Homo sapiens: one gene and its partner. The protein of the gene in region 2 interacts with the protein of the main gene of each other region in a biochemical or structural test. Each region holds a gene or a part of one and is shown on either strand. Other genes may lie near its edges.

Region 1 (3,813 bases), on a different chromosome or scaffold from region 2:
GAGCCCAGGAGTTCAAGATCAGCCTGGACAACGTAGCGAGACCCCATCTCTACAAAAAATGAAAAATTAGCCAGGTCTGGTGGCATGCATCTGTGATTCCAGCAACTCAGGAGGCTGAGGCAGGAGGATGGCTTGAGCCCAGCAGGTCTAGGCTGCAGTGAGCTATGATCGGGCACCACTGCACTCCAGCCTGGGTGACAGAGTGAGACCCCGTCTCAAAAAAAAAAAAGACTGAGTTGATTATTAGTCCAAGCAGGTGAATTAAGTCACCTCTATGTCCCATGTTGGCTGACACTTGGAATCCCCAGGTCCTCAGCAGGCCAGGGACGGTGGTCACCGGAGTGCCCCTGAGCTCTGTGCTGCAAGGCGGCCATCGACCACCTTTGGTGCCGTTGCTGGAATCCCTTCTCACGTCTCCCTGGAGCCAGCACTTTATTAAGCGCTCCAGCAGCTTCCCTGGCCACTCCTGGTTCTGGATATTAGTTGCGTTTTCCAGGGCAGCGCAAGTTTCTCCCCTGAAATCCAAGACTTCCTCGGCCACCAGAGGCCCCAACAGTTCCATGTCCCTGCCTGGACAGACGAGTCCTTGAATCTCCCAGAGCAGCCAGGCCCAGCATTGTCAGGCGCCCCTGAACGCAGCCCCTGGAACCCCACTGCTGCCACTCCAGCCGCGCTGCCCTGTCAGTCCGATTTCTTCCAGAAGCCTCTGTGAGCATTTGACTTTCTCTCAAGCAGCAGGGGCCCAGGAGCCCGGATTCCTCTCCTAGAGAACAAAATCTGTTCAGATTCGTTTGCTCCACTTTGCTTTGCATGTGTCTCCCAACCACAGATGCCAGGTGACCTCAGAGGCCCTGCCGGAGCCAAGGGCACATCAGAGGGCTGAGCCCACTGTAGACACCCCCTCGGCCTCCCGACCAAGGATGCCAGGTCATCTCGGAGGCCCTGCCGGAGCCGAGGGCACATCAGAGGGCTGAGCCCACTGTAGACACCCCCTCGGCCTCCCGACCAAGGATGCCAGGTCATCTCGGAGGCCCTGCCAGAGCCGAGGGCACATCAGAGGGCTGAGCCCACTGTAGACACCCCCTCGGCCTTCCGACCAAGGATGCCAGGTCATCTCGGAGGCCCTGCTGGAGCCCAGAGCACATTGGAGGGCTGAGCCCACTGCAGACACCCCCTCGGCCTCCCAACCACGGATGCCAGGTGGTCTCGGAAGCCCTGCTGGAGCCCAGAGCACATTGGAGGGCTGAGCCCACTGCAGACACCCCCTCGGCCTCCCGTGGCCTGAGTGACCCTCCCGTGGGGTCAATCAGAAAAGGGAAAATCCCATCAGCCAGGAACAAGGTGAGGGGGCGAGAGGTGGCCAAGGCCAGTGCTCGGGGAAGGTGGGCTCTGGGAGGGAGAAGCAGGAGGCTGAGCCCCAGGCAGCCCCCTGCCCCACGTAGGGATTGTGGAGCTCAGGTTCAGAGAGGGCAATTAGGACCCCAGCACCGCACAGCTGTGTAGGGGCCGGGCCGCAGTCAGAGCCCACATCTTCTAAGCCCCAAACGCTCACAGAACACACTCCCCTACTTCTCACGTAAGTTACCGTCTGCACGTTGCAAACGTCCCAGAGGTGCACAGGTCATCCGTGCACAGCTTTGCATTTCTGCAAGGTGAGCGCCCCCAGGACCAGGCCCAGGTCCTCAGCAGCTCCGGAAGCCACTCAGCCCGACACAGCCTGGACAGAAGGGCTTTGCCATCATCCGCTTCGCCTTTTTTCCTGCCACGGTGGCCTGGGCTGGGCAGGGCGGTCCTCAGGACTCTCTCCAGTGCTGCGTCCAGCTTAAATGCAGGTTGCAGGAGACACGTTTCCAGCGATGGACCCAGTTCGGGCACCCAGAGCCGCTGCCCTAAGTAACAGTGTCCGCCGGGCCCGCAGCTGTCCAGGGCACAGCTGTCCAAGGTGGCAGATGGCAGACGTCCGCCTTGCAAAACGCTCCTCCTGCTGGGTCAGCCCCGACACAGTCAGCGAAAGGAATGGTGGGAGACGCTTGAGCCGCAGGGTGAAGGAGCCATCTTCGTCCTTGCCAGGAGCCACACTCTTGCCTGTCTGCGCTCTCCGGGAGGCCAACCGTGATGCCATTTCCTGGTGACTGGAGGAGGCAGGATCTCTCCTGGGTTTGTCCGCTACCCTGGCTTTCTCCTTGCTGTTTGTGTCTTTTATTATTACTAAAATGGAAAAGGACTCACGCTCCTTCCTCCCAGAAAGCCCCCACTCCAAGTGCAGGGCAGCCTTCGTTACCTGGACAGCTGCCTCCCGTGGCTTCTTTGTGTAATTCCCAGCCCGTGATGCCGGCGTTGCTGGGACCCCCGCTTCCCGGGCGAGGGGCTGGGCACAGAGCAGGGAGGCACTTGCCTGAGGTCACACAGCTCCAAGCCCTCCTAACCCCGCCCGGGAGGCCCCTTTAATACCCGATTTGGATCTGCAAAGAGAAATGGCTGTGGGCCCGAGAAATGCCTTTCTCTTTTAACACGATACCATCTGAAACCGGCTTAGGCGAGGACGGGAGGCTGTTAACAGCAGACGAATTTTAAGCCTCCAGCCAATGAGCGCTCAGATGAAGATTTTCCTCCTGAAATGGAGCTCCTGCCCCGGTGGGGGCTGCCTCGTCCGACTGTGGGCTGCCGACTAATCTGTATCAGCACGAGACAGGATTGCAGCTGGTCTTTCCTTGATCGTTCGTTCTTACAATAATGACCCAGCGTTGGCAGTGGGGTGAGGGGGCGCGGGAAGGAGGGGGCAGGCAGGTGATCGGGGCGTTGGAACCAGACCAGCCGGGACCTGCCGGGTGCGTGGGGTGTGGTGGGGGCCAGGTCGGCCTGGCACCCACCCCGTTTCCTCTCCGAACCTCAGCTTGTTCAGCTAAGAAAGGGCAGCCGGGACCGGCCACCCTCCTGTTCACTCCGCTGGGAAGCGCCCTGCCGAACCTGCCTTCTGATCCCACGGGGAGCCTGCCCTGCAGCCAGGAGAGACCCCTGGAATCACTCAGCCTGGCTGCATAGGAATGCTGGGACTGGGGGAGCTGTGAGTGAGGTTCGGGGCTCCGGCCCCAACAAAACCACGTTCTCACCAGTTCTACAGCCCCAGGCTTTCCAGAGTTTCTCCACAAACAAATAAAGCAAGAAAAACTAGATTTAATCAGCAAATAAATACAGGAATAGCGCCGTCGGCCGGGCCTCCAGCATCAGAGCAGTGAACCCGCACTGCTAGCGGGCCTGGACAGCGCTTGCATTTTTCTGATTATTCTTTCTTTATTAAGGTATAATTCATGTACCACAAAATTTACCATTTAAAAGCGTACAGTTCCGTGGTTTTTAGTATATCCACAATGGTGTGCAACCATCACCACTGTCTAAATCCAGAATGTCCTGCTGACCCCAAAAAGGAGCCCCGTACCATGAGCAGGCGGTCACCGTTCCTCACCCCGCAGCCCTCGACGAGCAGCGTCCCACCCCCAGTCTATCTGGATTTGCCTGTTCTGGGCGTTTCATATTAAGAGGGTCATACGACGTGTGGCCTCCTCTGTCTGGCCTCCTTCGCGGAGCACAGGGTTCTCGGGTTCAGTGAGGGCTTCATTCCTCTTCTTGTTTCATTTCGTTTCGTGTCATCGCACGGATGGACCATGTTCACCTGGCGTGTCCACTCCTCTCTTGATGGACATTTGGGTGGATTCTCTCTTTTTCGGCTGTGGTGAGCGGTGCTGCTGTGAGCATTCGTGTCTGAGTTTTTGTATAGAAATGTTTTCTCTTCTCTTAGGGGTTTACATGGGAGGG
Region 2 (4,279 bases):
ATAACAGTGTGAGGTAAACAGAGCCTGTCATTTCCATCATAAAGAAAAGGAAACTAAGGAAATATACCCTTCATTCAGCTGGGATTTTAAAATATGACTTAATTTTTTAATGCAGTATACTGGGATAATAATGCTATGTTATTACTGCCAATAAAGAGTTTTTTGTTTTGAAGGAGCTGTTAGATTTAGAATACTCTTTAGATCCTCAAAGGAAGTATTTGAGTGACTTCCAAACTCAAAAACCTCCGGAGCAAGGGAGATTTGTTTGTCAGCTTGGTTGTTTGTTTGTTTTTAGGTACTTGAATAACTTCCTCCTTGAAAAGGAGGGTGCAGAAATCAAAGGCCTGATTGTGCTGAATCCTTCTCTTTGGTCATTATTCAGACTGGTTCCCAGCATGCCGCAGTCCAGAGGAAAAGGTCCAAGTTCTGTTTAAAAATCAGAGACTAAAGAGCTTACTCAGCATCCTGCTCACATTAATGTTGCTTGTTTTCATCATTTAAAGTCTTTTGATAGTTCCTTGTATACAATAACCTTAGGCTTCTGGGAATATTCTCAGAACATAGGAAGCACCTCCCTGACTTAGTAAAGATGAAAAATGCTTTTCATGACTATCCCCTCTCTTGAAGGACCCCCTGGAACAGCCAGGTCTTTGGGCATAATTAAATTCTGGGCAAGATTTTACAGAAATGCAGCTTCTTTTTTCTAATTTAGTTGTGTGGTGTGTGTGTGTAAAGTGGGGGAGGTTCCACTTGGTGGGGAAAGGAGAATTTGCCATTGCTGCTCGTCTACTCAGGACTGTTTCTGTTGTTGTTGTGTTTCAGCATCAGAGAGTGAGAGTGTATTGCAGCAATCTGACTATTTGGAAGACTGTTCCTTGAATTTCCCAATTCAAAAGCCTCGGTAGAGCTGAGGGATGCTTGATACGTCAACACAGACCACAAAAGGCAGGGCTTTTCTAAAGAGATTATAATTATATCTACCTTTTGGGTACAGGAGGTGAATGGAAGGAAGGGATTCTGGAGCAGATATCCCAAAAGAAGAATCCCGAAGCAGAACTCCTCGCACAAGGTTATCTAAATCTCCTTGACAGGTGCACAGGCAGAGAAGGCATTTGGCCCTTGAAGTAACATTTACTTGAGAGGTTGGGACAATTCTGTCACGCTTAGGACAAGCCAGCTGACCCTGAGCCCAGGAGCACCCTAGGACTGCAGCACAGAAAATACACCAGCTGGCCGGTCGCCCCTCCTTTGTTCCATTCCCGGGGGATTGGAGTAGCGTTGGAGTCACCGACGCCATCCCCTCCCGCCTCTGGCGTGCATGGAGCATGCGCTTCCTTCCTCACTTCCTCTGCAGGAGGGAGCGAGAGTAAAGCTACGCCCTGGCGCGCAGTCTCCGCGTCACAGGAACTTCAGCACCCACAGGGCGGACAGCGCTCCCCTCTACCTGGAGACTTGACTCCCGCGCGCCCCAACCCTGCTTATCCCTTGACCGTCGAGTGTCAGAGATCCTGCAGCCGCCCAGTCCCGGCCCCTCTCCCGCCCCACACCCACCCTCCTGGCTCTTCCTGTTTTTACTCCTCCTTTTCATTCATAACAAAAGCTACAGCTCCAGGAGCCCAGCGCCGGGCTGTGACCCAAGCCGAGCGTGGAAGAATGGGGTTCCTCGGGACCGGCACTTGGATTCTGGTGTTAGTGCTCCCGATTCAAGCTTTCCCCAAACCTGGAGGAAGCCAAGGTATGTGAACACTTTTCTTCTTCCTACCTTCCTTTTATTTCGCCACGAAAAGGTAAAGTTTGGCATAATACGTGAGCTGTAAATCACCCTGACGCGTTTTCTGATCAAATCATATCCATGAATACGGACAGAGAAATCAGTTCGAATTTAGAGACAGAAGACAGATTTTTTTTCTTCACTTTTAAAATGATAGAGCAATAATATGGGTTGTTTTTAAAGATCTTATTTTGAAAAGGGAAGGGAACCTTTTTCACCTAAAGTGGCTTGGATTGTTTTCTAGTTGCCTTACAACCTTTCTCAGACAGTCTATTCATTATATATGCAGTATATGATGAAAGAGCTTTTAGTGTGCCAATAATACCAATCCAAATTATGCTCTCTCTAGCTGAGAATAGCTGATAACCCTAGTGTTAGAACTATATGTTAAATTTCTGGTCAGAAAAAAAAAAAAGTGTGATTCTGTCAGCTCAAGAAATACACCAAGATAATAAACAAGGCAATATTGATAATTACTATTATTGTATAATCTTGATAATCTTTGTTAATATGCATTTGTTTCATAGTCATCCAAAATTATTTCTCCTAATATTTTTCCTTTTTATAAAAATTTTATTTAATAAGAGGCATATTTTGTCCTTCAACGCACAATTAAATTTATATTCACATGTGTTTATTCTAGACAAATCTCTACATAATAGAGAATTAAGTGCAGAAAGACCTTTGAATGAACAGGTAGGTCAAAAGTAACATTATGAATGCTATTTCATTTTGATTTAGTTATTATTATTTAATGTAATTATGCTGTGACATTTTGGTCATTTTGAATTTACAAACATCAGGAACTTAATAGTTAATTGACAGAAATTAGGACGGGAAATCTAGTTTTGGTAAATTCTATGCCCTAGCAGTTATTTACATTGAGTTCTGTATAATGAATACATAGAGTAACTATATAATAACCCAGTAAGCTCAGCATCACATCCACTCTGTTGTAAGATTGCCTAATTTACCAGAGATTTCTCTTTCAACAATATTATAGGAGAAAGAAATTAACACTGACTGAGCATCTACCCTTAATTTTATCTCATTTAATTATTATAACAGTGCTCTGAAATAGGAATTATCCACATTTTACAAACAAGACAATTAAATCCCATGGAGATTAAATCATTTGGCTCTTGTACTTGGTAAGTAGTGGAGCAATGATTTTAAACCAAGTCTATCTCCTGTTTGCTTCACAGATTGCTGAAGCAGAAGAAGACAAGATTAAAAAAACATATCCTCCAGGTAAAAAGAAATCATATTGATGTTAATTTAAATAATGTAGGCTATGAGAATCTGAACTAAAATGGCTGTGTTGGGTTTGGGGCTATTCTTCCAGAAAACAAGCCAGGTCAGAGCAACTATTCTTTTGTTGATAACTTGAACCTGCTAAAGGCAATAACAGAAAAGGAAAAAATTGAGAAAGAAAGACAATCTATAAGAAGCTCCCCACTTGATAATAAGTTGAATGTGGAAGATGTTGATTCAACCAAGAATCGAAAACTGATCGATGATTATGACTCTACTAAGAGTGGATTGGATCATAAATTTCAAGGTAAATGAGAAAAAAAGAACTTTTTGTTAACGTGGAGTTTCCTATAATGGGTTAAGAGAAAGTCCAATATTTTAAAAATATCTTTTAAACATTCATAATCCTTTATTAGTCAAGTCCAAAATTGAGATAAAGCATATATTTACTGATAACATGTAGAGCCCCAGCTCCACAGAGTGCCATATTTTATTTTCCCTTTAAAAATTCCTTTAGTGATGCTCTGAAAACATTTTTTAATCTAGTATTTGTATTTTATGGTATTAAATTCATTTGAACATTCAGATTTATTTTAACAATGAGTACACACAAAATATCATAATTTTCAAATAATTAGATCAGTAAAGTACCCTCCCACCCTGCACAAAAAAGGTGAAATATCCACTATTTCCTTTTCAGTGTTTCCTCCTAGCCATATCTTTTCTCCTTAGGTCATCCTAACCTTTACGTGGCTTCAATTACATCTATATCCTAACATCCCATATCACTAGGCCAGACTTCTCTTAGCTATAGACCTATTTATCTGTTTACCTATTCGACATTTTCCCTTGGCAGTGTCAGAAGCACCTCAAATTTAGCATGCCCATGATTAAACTCATAATCTGTGTCCACTTCACAACCTAGACCTCTTAGAGTACTGTTTCTTTAGGAAAGGCACTACTATCCATCCAGTTTTTTAAAGACAGAAATCTAGGATCAAACTATTTATCTTTTCCCTCACCTCTCAAATTCTAATCTGCCAAAACTTACTAATTTTATGTCTGTGTATCTCTCAATTGTTTTTCTCTGTACTTGTCCAAACTCCAATCCTTGTCCAAGCTCCAATTATGTCTCATGTAAACTATAGCAAAATCTACAGTTCTCCCAGCAACCACTCCGCCTCTCCCCAACTCATTCTTCATTTGGCAGCCAATGTGGTAGTTTCCTTACCCGAAGTCAGGAGTTCAAGACCA

The links.
Region 1: of the proteins of SCG3 (region 2) and FAM20C, one has a biochemical effect on the other in vitro, tested with the Homo sapiens proteins (one large-scale study listed by IntAct).

Annotation. Positions count from the first base shown.
Region 1 is NC_000007.14:251,303-255,115, forward strand, and holds part of FAM20C (extracellular serine/threonine protein kinase FAM20C precursor), read left to right. Parts: intron 1-829; exon of another isoform or gene 830-1,341; intron 1,342-3,813. UniProt on the Homo sapiens protein: Golgi serine/threonine protein kinase that phosphorylates secretory pathway proteins within Ser-x-Glu/pSer motifs and plays a key role in biomineralization of bones and teeth.
Region 2 is NC_000015.10:51,680,103-51,684,381, forward strand, and holds the start of SCG3 (secretogranin-3 isoform 1 precursor), read left to right. Parts: upstream 1-1,400; 5' UTR 1,401-1,653; coding exon 1,654-1,735; intron 1,736-2,414; coding exon 2,415-2,467; intron 2,468-2,976; coding exon 2,977-3,022; intron 3,023-3,116; coding exon 3,117-3,332; intron 3,333-4,279. UniProt on the Homo sapiens protein: Member of the granin protein family that regulates the biogenesis of secretory granules. Acts as a sorting receptor for intragranular proteins including chromogranin A/CHGA. May also play a role in angiogenesis.